Homo sapiens: one gene and its partners. The protein of the gene in region 4 interacts with the protein of the main gene of each other region in a pairwise test. Each region holds a gene or a part of one and is shown on either strand. Other genes may lie near its edges.

Evidence for each region. Proteins that work in one complex are often made in the same cells at the same time.
Region 1: the proteins of NBL1 (region 4) and CHAT interact in binary tests that used the Homo sapiens proteins (3 or more experiments, as listed by UniProt).
Region 2: the proteins of NBL1 (region 4) and NCS1 interact in binary tests that used the Homo sapiens proteins (3 or more experiments, as listed by UniProt).
Region 3: the proteins of NBL1 (region 4) and CAMK2A interact in binary tests that used the Homo sapiens proteins (3 or more experiments, as listed by UniProt).

Annotation. Positions count from the first base shown.
Region 1 is NC_000010.11:49,645,037-49,648,536, forward strand, and holds part of CHAT (choline O-acetyltransferase), read left to right. Parts: intron 1-1,468; coding exon 1,469-1,638; intron 1,639-3,470; coding exon 3,471-3,500. UniProt on the Homo sapiens protein: Catalyzes the reversible synthesis of acetylcholine (ACh) from acetyl CoA and choline at cholinergic synapses.
Region 2 is NC_000009.12:130,220,904-130,224,403, forward strand, and holds part of NCS1 (neuronal calcium sensor 1), read left to right. Parts: intron 1-1,746; coding exon 1,747-1,835; intron 1,836-2,178; coding exon 2,179-2,256; intron 2,257-3,500. UniProt on the Homo sapiens protein: Neuronal calcium sensor, regulator of G protein-coupled receptor phosphorylation in a calcium dependent manner. Directly regulates GRK1 (RHOK), but not GRK2 to GRK5. Can substitute for calmodulin. Stimulates PI4KB kinase activity.
Region 3 is NC_000005.10:150,286,974-150,291,147, forward strand, and holds the start of CAMK2A (calcium/calmodulin-dependent protein kinase type II subunit alpha), read right to left. Parts: upstream 2,801-4,174; 5' UTR 2,653-2,800; coding exon 2,591-2,652; intron 1-2,590. UniProt on the Homo sapiens protein: Calcium/calmodulin-dependent protein kinase that functions autonomously after Ca(2+)/calmodulin-binding and autophosphorylation, and is involved in various processes, such as synaptic plasticity, neurotransmitter release and long-term potentiation.
Region 4 is NC_000001.11:19,656,632-19,658,952, forward strand, and holds the end of NBL1 (neuroblastoma suppressor of tumorigenicity 1 isoform 2 precursor), read left to right. Parts: intron 1-234; coding exon 235-498; 3' UTR 499-1,821; downstream 1,822-2,321. Other genes in the region: MICOS10-NBL1 (neuroblastoma suppressor of tumorigenicity 1 isoform a precursor), read left to right, coding at 235-498. UniProt on the Homo sapiens protein: Possible candidate as a tumor suppressor gene of neuroblastoma. May play an important role in preventing cells from entering the final stage (G1/S) of the transformation process.

The sequences.
Region 1 (3,500 bases), on a different chromosome or scaffold from region 4:
CCGGAAGCTGTGGTGTAGTTTTTTGAGATCTTGCTCATAGAATTTAGACACCTGGTTACCCCTAGCTGTAAGGGAGGCTGGGAAGTATAGCTCTAGTTTGTTATCCATGTACCAAGCTAAAAACCAGGGGTTCTACAAGCAAGGAAAGAAAGGACATGTGGTGTGCAACTAGGAGTCTCTACCATGTAATGAACCTTTCCCTGCAAATGCCATGCACCCATCTTCCCACACACAGAGCACTCTCACCCCTGCCCTGGGTGCCTCATCCTGTCCCAGCATCCAGCCCCCAAGGTCAGGCTCTCCTGGTGATACGCAGCCCTCACCATTGGGTCTTGAAGTGACTCCTTGGAATTTTAAACCAAAATGTTAAACTTTGGGTGGACTTTTTAACTTTTGGTGAACTTTAAACCAAGAGGCAGGCTGTGTACCCCCACACCCAGTACTGAGCAGTGGAGAGAACATCGTCAGCACAATAGACTCCTGTTTGGAAGAAATGGGAACACGCAGCGGGAGCAGGCCTGGCCCCCAACAGGTCCTGCCGGGTGGGCTTGGTGAACCTCCCTGTGCCCTGTGGAGGAAGCTGCCAGGGAGGGCAGCTTCTGGTGCTCTCTGGGAGGAACGCATGTGTCCTTGGTGAAATCACGTGCTCTGTGCCTGACTCCCGCTCCTGAAGAGCCGTCCTTGTCTGTACTCTTCCAGTGCCACCAGGGAGGGGGATTCCCTTTTGAGACCTGCTTACTCTAGAAGAATGTCTAGAGGAGCCTGGGAATTGGTAGAGGCTAACACAAAAGCCAGCTGTGGGCCAGGCTTGGAGCTCCTTTGGATCCATGAGTCCAAAACTGCCCCTACAAGCTCATCCAGATGTGGGTTCAAGGCAGCCTGGCCCTTCTGCCTGCAGCTCTGCCTCTGAACCAACAGCTTGGGGGCAGGGAGGTGACCAATACACTTCCTTCAGGTTTTAATGTGAAATTGCCTAATTTTGAAATTGCAACAACAATTTTGAAATTGCAGTTTAGATGTCTGAAAGTCATAGTTCAGCACAAACAAGCATGCCTACACACAGATGTGGCTCACAGGAGCCCCAGTGGAGGGTGCTGTTGGGTGGGGGATTAAGGGCCCTTCCACTGATGTGGGCTGACATGAGGGTCTAAGCATCCCGCTTCATCTTGGCATGCATGACCAATAGCCCACACATCTGGAGGAGAGCTGGTCACAGCTGGAGAGCAGGGCTCCTGCAGGGACCGTGCGAATGAGCTGGGATCCTGGGGTAGGACAGAGGCTCAGGACACTCTGGCTGACTTCACTGCCCACCCACAGTGGGGCAAGGTGGGGGGTCAGGGCTGGCTCAAGACCTGGGTCTTGTTGTGATCCCAGAAGACAGGGCTGCCCTGCCCTGTGTGGGGCTCTGAGGAGGGAAGACTGGCCTGGAGCGGGACAGGTGCTAGGGCTGTGCCTGCCTCCCCTGCAGACTCCACCAACCGGGACTCGCTGGACATGATTGAGCGCTGCATCTGCCTTGTATGCCTGGACGCGCCAGGAGGCGTGGAGCTCAGCGACACCCACAGGGCACTCCAGCTCCTTCACGGCGGAGGCTACAGCAAGAACGGGGCCAATCGCTGGTACGACAAGTCCCTGCAGGTAAGCCGTCCAGGTGGCCCTGCAAGAGCACAGCCATGCCCCCAGCGAGAGAGTGAGTAGGCAAGCGGGCACAGCCTGGTGCCCAGGCCCGCACGTGCTTGTGTCTGGCAGGCGCACTCACTGGTTTCTGCTGCCTAAGAGGCTGGGTCTGAGGGGTCAGGAGAGCTGGAGGGGTCTGAGATGTGCTGTTGATGTCAATCTCTGGACCAGCCAGAACTCTTCTCAGGAGCCAGTGGCCGAACCCAACTCAAACTCCCTAACCTTCCTGCAGCCTGTGCCAGGAAGGTCTGGGCCAGACCTGGGGCCCATTTCCCATCACCCATCACACCTGTGAGGTGGGGGTGTGCCAGGAGTAGGAGAGTATAACAGCCCCACTGAACAAATCCTTAATGCATGCTGAAATAATAATTTCTGATGCCCAGAGCTGTCAGCTTTTTGGATGTCCACCCCCGTGGCCTGGCGATTTCAACATACCTCCCTCAATCCCTGAGAAGTAGAACAGCCCAGCATCTCCATGGAAGAAAGACTGTAAGATGAGATAAAATAATTCATATATGTTCATTTACATGACATCAGCCTAGAAGCAAGAAATTTACTTTGACCTAGAGAAAAATACCCATGCAGACGGGATGAAGTCAAGGTCAAACCATTCATTCCCATTCTGCCATCCTCCTTTTATTCCCCCAACATGCCAATCCTGAACCTAGTCTTGTTTATTTTAAAGTCACTACACTTTTATATGATATGCCATGTAGTATAAAACAGCAGGCAAAAACAAAACATCTCTCTACTTTGGGTTAGCAAAGCTCACATTGATAAGCATATCTAGACAACACCTCGTTTTCCTTTCTCTCTGTCCCTACATTCTGCAGGTTTTCCTTTTTATTGGTTTGCATATTGATTCTGTTATTTCTGATGCGCTCTCCAGCTGCTGGGCCAGCTGTTTTAGCCTCTACAGTGGTGCTAATGGCTTATCATCTTTCATGGAGCTGTGGGGGTGAACCGATATAATACATGCACAGAATCTGGAACTCAGCCTTGGTAGCAGTTTTCAAAAGACACCGCTTTCCTTCCTTCCTTCCTTCCTTCCTTCCTTCCTTCCTTCCTTCCTTCCTTCCTTCCTTCCTTCCTTCCTTTTAGTGACAGGCACAGATAAGTACTAATGTGGGGGGTGGGTGCAGCCCTCTCCACCACCTCTCATGGGTTAGTCTATGCTGACCTCCAGGTTCTTTTCATCAGCAGGGCAGATTATCAGGCGAACCAGAGAAGCCAGCAGGGCTTCATGGACCTGAATTCAAGATGATGGAGAACTGGTCTCAGGATAGCAAGGCAGGGGACACTGGGGGCGGGAGGGGAGGGCCTGCAAAGGGTGAGTTTGGGGAGAAGCTCTGTGGGAAGTGAGTTTCTTTGTAGAATGGGAGTAAAGATCCAGCCTCTGGCACACAAGGCAAGAGATTGGGAGGAGACCCCGATGTGAGCTATGACAGGAAACAGGGCTGAAGGGCCTCACCCAGGCCCCAAGGGCAGCTGGGCAGACTCGTCCTGAGGATGAACTCCTCAGAAATCCCTGGACTGCTCAGTCCGGGAACTTGGGGCTCCACCTTCACTGCCCACAGCTTTTACGGGAAAGAGGTCGTGAGTGCAGAGTAGTCTTGGATTCTCATATTCTCAGGCCACTGCAATCACATGCAGTGTTCTCTTCAGGAAATAATGTGCTCTGGTGTCCCTGGAGAAGAGGTGCCCTGAGAAGCCAGGGGCCTAACCTGGGGCCAAGGGGCTGCCTTGCAATGCTGACTCTCCCATGATCGCCCACTCCCTCTTTCCTGTTGCAGTTTGTGGTGGGCCGAGACGGCACCTGCGGT
Region 2 (3,500 bases), on a different chromosome or scaffold from region 4:
GTTGGGGGAAGGAGAGGGGTGCTCCTCTGGGTAACATCCCAGGCCCCGGGCTCTCCCACGCACTCAGCTCCAGCCACTGATACCTCGGCCCTGGCAGCCCAATGCCCCATCCCTTTATTTTATTTGTTTATTTATTTATAGACAGAGTCTCGCTCTGTTGCTCAGGCTGGAGTGCAGTGGCACAATCTCGGCCCACTACAATCTCTGCCTCCTGGGTTCAAGCAATTCTCCTGCTTCAGCCTCCCAAGTAGCTGGGATTACAGGCATGTGCCACCACACCTGGCTAATTTTTGTGTTTTTAGTAGAAATGGGGTTTCGCCATGTTGGCCAGGCTGGTCTCGAACTCCTGACCTCAGATGATCCACCCACCTTGGCCTTCCAAAGTGCTGGAATTACAGGTGTGAGCCACCGTGCCTGGCCCTGTTATTTTTAATATATATATATATAAAATATTTAATATATATATAAAATATCATATATATATATATATATATATATATATATATATATAGAGAGAGAGAGAGAGAGAGAGAGAGAGAGAGAGAGAGAAAGAGAGAGTCTTGCTCTGTCACCCAGGCTAGAGTGCAGTAGTTCGATCTCGGCTTATTGCAACCTTCGCCTCCTGGGCTCAAGCCATCCTCTCACCTCCTCCCAAGTAGCTGGAACTACAGGCGCCCGCCACCACACCTGGCTAATTTTTGTATTTTTAGTAGAGAAGGGGTTTCATCCTGTTGGCCAGGCTGTTCTCCAACTCCTGACCTCAGGTGATCTGCCCGCCTCGGCCTCCCAAAGTGCTGGGATTATAGGGGTGAGTCACTGTGCCTGGCCCTGTTATTTTTAATTTATAAATAAATAAATATATATATACACATAAATATAAATTATGTATATATAAATATATATACATAAATATAAATTATGTATATATAAATATATATACATAAATATAAATTATGTATATATAAATATATATACATAATACATAAATATAAATTATGTATATATAAATATATATACATAAATATAAATTATGTATATATAAATATATATACATAAATATAAATTATGTATATAAATATATATACATAAATATAAATTATGTATATAAATATATATACATAAATATAAATTATGTATCTATAAATATATATACATAAATATAAATTATGTATCTATAAATATATATATGTGTGTGTGTATATATATATACGTATATATATATGTGTATATATATATACGTATATATATATGTATATACAGAGAGAGAGAGGGAGAGAGACTTGCTCTGTCACCCAGGCTGGAGTGCAGTGGCTTGATCTCGGCTTATTGCAAACTTCGCCTCCTGGGCTCAAGCCATCCTCCCACCTCAACCTCCCAAGTAGCTGGAACTACAGGCACCGCCACCAGGCCTGGCTAATTTTTGTATTTTTGTAGAGACGGGGTTTTGCCATGTTGTCCAGGCTGGTCTCGAACTCCTGGGCTCAAGCAGTCTGCTCACCTCAGCCTCCCAAAGTCCTGGGATTACAGGTGTGAGCCACCATGCCCAGCCTTATTTTTTTTAACCCTAGTTGCAATGGTGTGTGTGTGTCTGTCCCTGTCTATCCTGATGTAAATATTAGTTGACCTGATGAGGAATGGGCCATCCGGTCGCTGACTTCATGTTGGGGTACAGAGAGGAGGGGCGAGTTGAAGACCCCTCCCCACTGCCCCAGCCCAGGATCACTCAGCAGTGCTGCTTGCTTACAGGGGCCTTCAAGCTCTACGACTTGGACAATGATGGCTACATCACCAGGAATGAGATGCTGGACATTGTGGATGCCATTTACCAGATGGTGGTGAGAAGCCGGGTCTCGTGTGGTTAGGGGTGGCAGGAGGGGCAAAGCCAGTGACTGAGAGACAGAGAGAGAGCACTTGTGCAGCCATGCTCCTGCCCAGGGTGGAAGCAGGGGTCACTGGCTGAGCCGTTCTGTACATCTCTGCCTGGGCAGGCAGGCACAAGCTGGTAGATAGTGGGGCTGGGGTGTGGGATGTTCCAGGGCACAATGGCAGGGATGGGGAGGGGAAAGAAGAGGGGGGCGGCCCTCATCTGGAAACTGCCAGGTCTGGGGGGCAAATGCGTGGCCAAGAGCCCAAAGCCCAGAGTGCCAGGGCCCACCCCCGCCTTGTCCGTCCCTGCAGGGGAATACCGTGGAGCTCCCAGAGGAGGAGAACACTCCTGAGAAGAGGGTGGACCGGATCTTTGCCATGATGGATAAGGTGAGGTGGGGGGGCGGGGCTGGTCCTGGACCAGGGAGGCAAGGTGTCGGGGGCAGGAATTGGAGTCCCTGGATCCTGGGCCTGGCTTTGCTGCCAACCTCCTCCATGGCTCACGGCAGGCGGCACGGTGTCCTATCCCTGCTCAGCAGCTAGCCCCATCCAGTGTCCAGAGTCTTAAGTCAGTTTGCTCAGCATGTTTTCTTTAATCAACCAGAGTCCTTAGCCTTTTTTTTTTGTTTGCCATGGACCCCTTTGGCATTCTGGAGAAGCCTACAGACTTCTCAGCATAATGGCTTTAAGCGCATAAAATAAAATCCATAAGATCAAAAAGGAAGCTGATTATTTTAGAAAACAGCTGTCAGAGTATTTTAAAAAAAGAATCTGTGATGTAGCGTTCTGTGAGCTGCTTTCTTAACGCATTCACTAAGATGTAGTGGTGGGTCCAGCAACCCCCGAAATTGCGAGCTGTAATATCTGCAGCAACTAGGGTGTGTTATGAAAATACCTGTGATCCCTACTGTCGACAGATCACAGGTACTGCAGGTCCTGTTGGGGACCGTCGCCTAGGTTTCCATCAAAGGAAAAGCTACATTTCAGTTAGAGGTTAGTAAAAAAAGGCTGATTTTTTTTCCCCCAAGTTCATAGACCTGCTGACTTCTATCCACAGGCCCAAGGTTAAGAAACCCTTCTCTTTTTTTTTGAGACAGAATCTTCGCCCTGTCACCCAGGCTGGAGTGCAGTGGCGGGCGCGATCTCGGCTCACTGCAAGCTCTGCCGCCTGGGTTCACGCAACTCTCCTGCCTCAGCCTCCCGAGTAGCTGGGACTACAGGCGCATGCCACCATACCTGGCTAATTTTTTGTATTTTTAGTAGAGACGGGATTTCACCGTGTTAGCCAGGATGGTCTCGATCTCCTGACTTCGTGATCCACCAGCCTCGGCCTCCCAAAGTGCTGGGATTATAGGCGTGAGCCACCGTGCCTGGCCAAGAAACCCTTCTTTAAAGGGAACCAAAGCCAGGTGTGGTGGCTCACACCTGTAATCCCAGCATTTTGGGAGGCCGAGGCGGGTGAATCACCTGAGGTCAGGAGTTCGAGACCAGCCTGGCCAACATGGTGAATCCCTTTCTCTACTAAAAAAAAAAAAAAAAAAAAATCCGGGAGGCAGCAGTTGCAGTGAGTGGAGATCGCGCCATTGCACTCCAGCCTGGGCAACAGAGTGAGACGCAGTCTCAAAAAAAAAAAA
Region 3 (4,174 bases), on a different chromosome or scaffold from region 4:
CTACAGGTGGGGGTAAAGAGGTAGCATAGCCTGCCTGGTGTCACAGAGCTATGGGTGATGAGGGACAGCGCCTGTGTCCCTAGTGGCTACGCAGGGCACTGCCCCTCCCTGCACCACTGGATGCTCAGACTGAAGCTGCTGTGGAGAGCAGGAGCCCCAGGCTCCTCAATGATGTGGTCTGGACTTTTTAACACAGACATCAGGGGTGCGGAATCAGTCCACTTTATCCCCTTGTCTCTAACACAAGCTTCTGCAAACTTAGGCTCATACACAGTCTTCCCGATGTCCCTGCAAGCTCCTGACATTGCATGCAACATTTCGTAGGTTTGTGCGTTTTTCTGGGGAACGTAGATTTAGACTTTCATCAGATTCCTGAAGGAATATGTGACCTAAAAAAGGTTAAGAGCAGTCTGATGGTTCTGGAAGGAAGAAGTCTGAAATTGATTAAACAAGGCCTAGCTATGCCTGCTACCCTCGGTTTTCCTGCCATGGCCACACCAGGGCTCCCTTGCCCCTGAAATTCTCTGTGAAGGCTCACGAAGGGTCTCTCTACCAAGTTGCCCCCACAAAACCCAGTCTTAATGATATCCATCTCCTCTTGGGGCAAAACATCACTTTTATTTTCACTTTGAGCACTTGAGTCACATCTCAACTCCATCTCACTGTACTCATGACGCAGTCCTGCCAGGACCCAGTCTTGGTCACTCCCTGAAAGGCAGCTTCATGGCTAATCAGGGAATTCTTGGGTTCTAGGCGAGCACTGGAAAACACCTGGAGAGGGGTCCCTGCACAAGTTTGTAGACAGCCTCAGTCCTCCAGAGCAGCCCCAAACATTTTGTTCCTGCCCCTACCCGCAAAAAAAGCACATTCAGAAAAGCTGAAAGTCTGCAGATAAGAGTGAACACACGTACACATGGGGGTATATGTGCTCAAGGGAGGTGGTGCATGCCTGTAGGATAGCCTCTGTGTGTGTGTGTGTGTGTGTGTGTGTGTGTGTGTGTGTGCAAGCAGCCTTCCTGTATACAGTCACAGGGCCACCTCCCACACATATGCAGACACCAGCATGAGCTCACACATGCCTATAACACCCATACTCCCACATAACCCTGTGAGCCCAGGCCTCACACATGCACACACATGCGTGTGCACACACACGTACATCATCCTGTGTGCATGACCCCAGTCTTCACGTAGATGTGCATATCAAGACCTCACAGGAACACCATTGTGTCCGCATCTCATATGAGCATCCTCACACACCCCTAGACCTCACACACATGTGCCTTCCTATGTGCACACAGCTCTAACCTGCCATACATGTGCACATTTAATGAGTCATGTTTACACCCTTGTTCTCATTCAACCCAGCCAACAGCACTCTTGTAATACTCACACACATGCACCCTTGCAAGGCACACTTGCATTTTCAGGCCTTACACACGAAGCACCTCTTCCTGGTGCACATGCATGAATGCTTGCACACCCTGGCAGGGCACACCAGCGTACCCCAGTGTCACAAGCAATTTCCCTCAAAAGCCCTTCTACAGCCACACACATCACTCCTCAAAATGCACACTAGTACACACACATTCAGAACTCACACCAATACACACCTGCCTCCAGGGCCCCTCCCCCCGTGCTCCTGCTGCCTCAGCAGAAACCAACCAGGGCATCGGTGCTCCTTTGCCCACAAGGCAAACTCTGCCTCCAAAATGCACCCAACCCTTGACCCATCCCAGGATCCTCCAGAAACCCAGCTGGGGACATCCAGGAATCCCTCCCTGACACTCCACACCCTACTGGGCCACCCACAAGGGCCTCCCCTCTTTCCTCATCCTCCCATCCTTCTCTACACAGCAGTCATCAGGGCAGAAAATGAGCTCTGGGCTGGGCAACTTTGCTTGTCCAGAGCCACTGCACCCTTCATACCCTAGCCCCTGAAACAGCGGTGCTCCCCGCTACAGCTTTCCTGATTTCCTCTCCCCACCTCCCAACACCCGGGAAGCCTGTCATGCTCAGATATTAACCCCTACTGTACTGACGCCCTCACTCCTGGCAGGAGCTGAGAAAGGGGAGGTAGGGAGGGAGAAGTTGGCCACTCTGTACAGTCACTGTGGGTGTCTAAAGTCAGGAAGAACTACCGGGAGCTGGTGAATTCTCTGTCACTGGAGGTATCTAAGTGGAGGGCGGATGGCCACCTCAAGCAAAACTAGAGAAGGAATTCCAGCTTTGGACCCAGCTGACTAGGAAAATCCCTTTTTAACCCTAAGTCTCTAAGAATCTGTGTGTATCCAGGTTGTGTGTACTTGTGTGCATTTTGTGTGTATGTGTGTGCACTGGCATACACTGTCAACCCTTCATCCCTACATACACACTGGCCTGGCTAGCTTGGCACATCTGTGCACCCACAAACATACCCACGCCCGACTCTGGACACTCTGTACACAGGCAGGTGCCCCCAAACCCATGCAGCCTGCCTTCATCTGTGTACAAGGAATGCTCCCCAAGCACTGCAGGCACACACACCCCACTAGAGACCCTGACCTCCCCGCCCCCCATGCCTTCCAGGACTTCCTGAGGCACAACTCACTTGCCCAATTCCTCGAAGAGCTGGTACTCTTCCGTGAAGCGGGTGCAGGTGATGGTGGCCATCCTGGCGCTGGGCAGGCAGGTGAGGCTTGGGACTGGGGGACCAGGACTGAGGCGCTGCTGCTCTGCTCCCGAACCTAGGGACCACTTGCCTGCCCGTGCTGCCGAGTGCAAACAGAGAACCGGTTTGACTGACGAGCCCGGGGCTTCTGAGCAGGGCACTGTGGCTGCTCACAGCCTCGCGAGCCTTCGTCAGCATCCAGGTCCCCATGGCAACCACCTCCAAAACGCCCTGTTCCCGTTGCCCCGGTAACTGCCTCCCCAACACCTGCCTGCCTTCCACTGCGAAACCTGCTCTCGGACGCCCTGACCATACCGCACACAATACTGCAAGCCTGTGTGGGCCTGGGGGTGGGATGGACCCAGCACCCCTGGGGTGATGGACCCAAGGAGGGCCTGGAGGAGGTGGAATAGAGCAAACTTTGTCCACAAGTGATCTTTTCTCTTCCCACCTCCCCCACCTCCAACTGTGGGGCCCTTGTAGCAGACGGGATGGGATTAAGTGGGGCAAAAAGGCAGTTGCCATGGTAACAGCCAGTGGGTGCCGCATTCCGGATGGTCCCCAGGAACGAATGACAGGATGCAGTTACCCTGGCAACTTCATCTCTAGAGAGACAGGTATTGCCCCGTTGCCCTGGCAACAGCTGGGTTCTAAGGTTTACAGGGAAATGATGGCTAATTCACAGGGATGGCTCTCCCTCTGTGGATCACTGTAGTCTCTGTAACTGTCTCTCTGTTGCCCTCTGTTTTTTTTTTTTTTTTTTTTTTGCTTCTGCCTCTGTCTTTCTTGTTATGCTCGTGCTCTTTCAGCTCTCTTACCACCTTGTCCATCACACTAGCACTCCAGCTTGGCGCAGAAGTGCAGAGGACACCCCAGGATTCTGGAGGGAACAGCCCTGACTGCCTGCTCACCCCCACCTCTCACAGCTGTGACAGTTGCTCCCCTCCAGAGCCCTCCTCTGCAACCTCTCCCCAACCCCATGCCCCCAACGGGACCATGGAAATCTGGTCTCCTGGTGCTCATGTCCCAGTTTCTGCTTGTGCTTCCAGTCAAGGTAAAAAAAAAAAAAAAAAAAAAGGCGAGAGGGGGCTGTGGGGAGGTGAGCATAGCATGGCTTACCCGGGCTAGGCCACTGGCCAGAGACTTGCCATGAAATCTTCAATCCAAAATTTTCTGGGCACCTTCCCTGCCAACTTCAACTCTTCAGGGCATCAGCCATACCTACAGCCACAAGATCTTACTCCAAGGTCTTGGAGTTAGGAAGAAAAGGGACTGGAGTTTAAGACTAAGGATCTGAGTTTGAGCTCTGATTCCTGGACATTTATTATTTATATTATTTATTTATTTATTTATTTATTTTGGAGACAGAGTCTTACTCTGTCACCCAGGCTGGAGTACAGTGGTGCAAGCTCGGCTCACTGAAGCCTCCGTCTCCTGGGTTCAAGTGATTCTCCTGCCTCAGCCTCCCAAGTAGCTGGGACTACAGGCGCACACCACCACGTCTGGCTAATTTTTTGTGTTTTA
Region 4 (2,321 bases):
GGTGGCTGCTGGTGGGGAATGGGTGGGAAGGTGGCAGGACTGGATGTGAGGAGACAGCTCTGGTGGCTTGTGCAGGGGTTCAATTTCCCCCTCCCCATGGGACCCCAGAGCTAACTGGGCATCACAGGTGGGCTCTGGGATTCTTGATCCCATGAGGAAGTATTACCCTAGGGGCTGCCTTGCCTGCCCCAGACCTTTGGGAACATGCCTCTGCTTCTCTCTTGCCCTCTGCAGGTGACGCTGGAGTGCCCGGGCCACGAGGAGGTGCCCAGGGTGGACAAGCTGGTGGAGAAGATCCTGCACTGTAGCTGCCAGGCCTGCGGCAAGGAGCCTAGTCACGAGGGGCTGAGCGTCTATGTGCAGGGCGAGGACGGGCCGGGATCCCAGCCCGGCACCCACCCTCACCCCCATCCCCACCCCCATCCTGGCGGGCAGACCCCTGAGCCCGAGGACCCCCCTGGGGCCCCCCACACAGAGGAAGAGGGGGCTGAGGACTGAGGCCCCCCCAACTCTTCCTCCCCTCTCATCCCCCTGTGGAATGTTGGGTCTCACTCTCTGGGGAAGTCAGGGGAGAAGCTGAAGCCCCCCTTTGGCACTGGATGGACTTGGCTTCAGACTCGGACTTGAATGCTGCCCGGTTGCCATGGAGATCTGAAGGGGCGGGGTTAGAGCCAAGCTGCACAATTTAATATATTCAAGAGTGGGGGGAGGAAGCAGAGGTCTTCAGGGCTCTTTTTTTGGGGGGGGTGGTCTCTTCCTGTCTGGCTTCTAGAGATGTGCCTGTGGGAGGGGGAGGAAGTTGGCTGAGCCATTGAGTGCTGGGGGAGGCCATCCAAGATGGCATGAATCGGGCTAAGGTCCCTGGGGGTGCAGATGGTACTGCTGAGGTCCCGGGCTTAGTGTGAGCATCTTGCCAGCCTCAGGCTTGAGGGAGGGCTGGGCTAGAAAGACCACTGGCAGAAACAGGAGGCTCCGGCCCACAGGTTTCCCCAAGGCCTCTCACCCCACTTCCCATCTCCAGGGAAGCGTCGCCCCAGTGGCACTGAAGTGGCCCTCCCTCAGCGGAGGGGTTTGGGAGTCAGGCCTGGGCAGGACCCTGCTGACTCGTGGCGCGGGAGCTGGGAGCCAGGCTCTCCGGGCCTTTCTCTGGCTTCCTTGGCTTGCCTGGTGGGGGAAGGGGAGGAGGGGAAGAAGGAAAGGGAAGAGTCTTCCAAGGCCAGAAGGAGGGGGACAACCCCCCAAGACCATCCCTGAAGACGAGCATCCCCCTCCTCTCCCTGTTAGAAATGTTAGTGCCCCGCACTGTGCCCCAAGTTCTAGGCCCCCCAGAAAGCTGCCAGAGCCGGCCGCCTTCTCCCCTCTCCCAGGGATGCTCTTTGTAAATATCGGATGGGTGTGGGAGTGAGGGGTTACCTCCCTCGCCCCAAGGTTCCAGAGGCCCTAGGCGGGATGGGCTCGCTGAACCTCGAGGAACTCCAGGACGAGGAGGACATGGGACTTGCGTGGACAGTCAGGGTTCACTTGGGCTCTCTCTAGCTCCCCAATTCTGCCTGCCTCCTCCCTCCCAGCTGCACTTTAACCCTAGAAGGTGGGGACCTGGGGGGAGGGACAGGGCAGGCGGGCCCATGAAGAAAGCCCCTCGTTGCCCAGCACTGTCTGCGTCTGCTCTTCTGTGCCCAGGGTGGCTGCCAGCCCACTGCCTCCTGCCTGGGGTGGCCTGGCCCTCCTGGCTGTTGCGACGCGGGCTTCTGGAGCTTGTCACCATTGGACAGTCTCCCTGATGGACCCTCAGTCTTCTCATGAATAAATTCCTTCAACGCCTGTGTTCTCCTCCTCACTGACTGGCTCTGCCGACCCAGGTTCTCCAGAAGTGCCGGCAGCGAGGCCCAGAGGCAGCAGGGCCTGGGCTCGGGCAGTGGGGTGCTGAGCAGGCCTGCCTGGCCCCCACGCGGCACCACTGTCTCTGCATCCTTGTGGCCCTCTCCCTGTCTTGCCCTGTGCACCCCTGGCTCCTGATCCTCTGTCTCCCCAGCTTTCATGTCTTTCCTTGGGTGCCAGTTTCTGGCCTCGCATACACCTTGGGTGGGCCTCCAGAACTGGGCTTCATGGATTTTGGCCCCTGGTCTTGTGGGCTTGCCTCATGCCATCTCTTCACCCACACAATGGCCCAGGATCAGCCCTTGCCTGGGCCTGGCCTGCCTGGCCCCCTGGGAGAAGGGGAAACAGACAAAAGTATTGGTTACAGATTAATATATAAGGCTGGGCCCTGTGCAGGGTCCTCGCCCAGTCCGCACCACCTCCCAGTGATGCGGATATTGTCC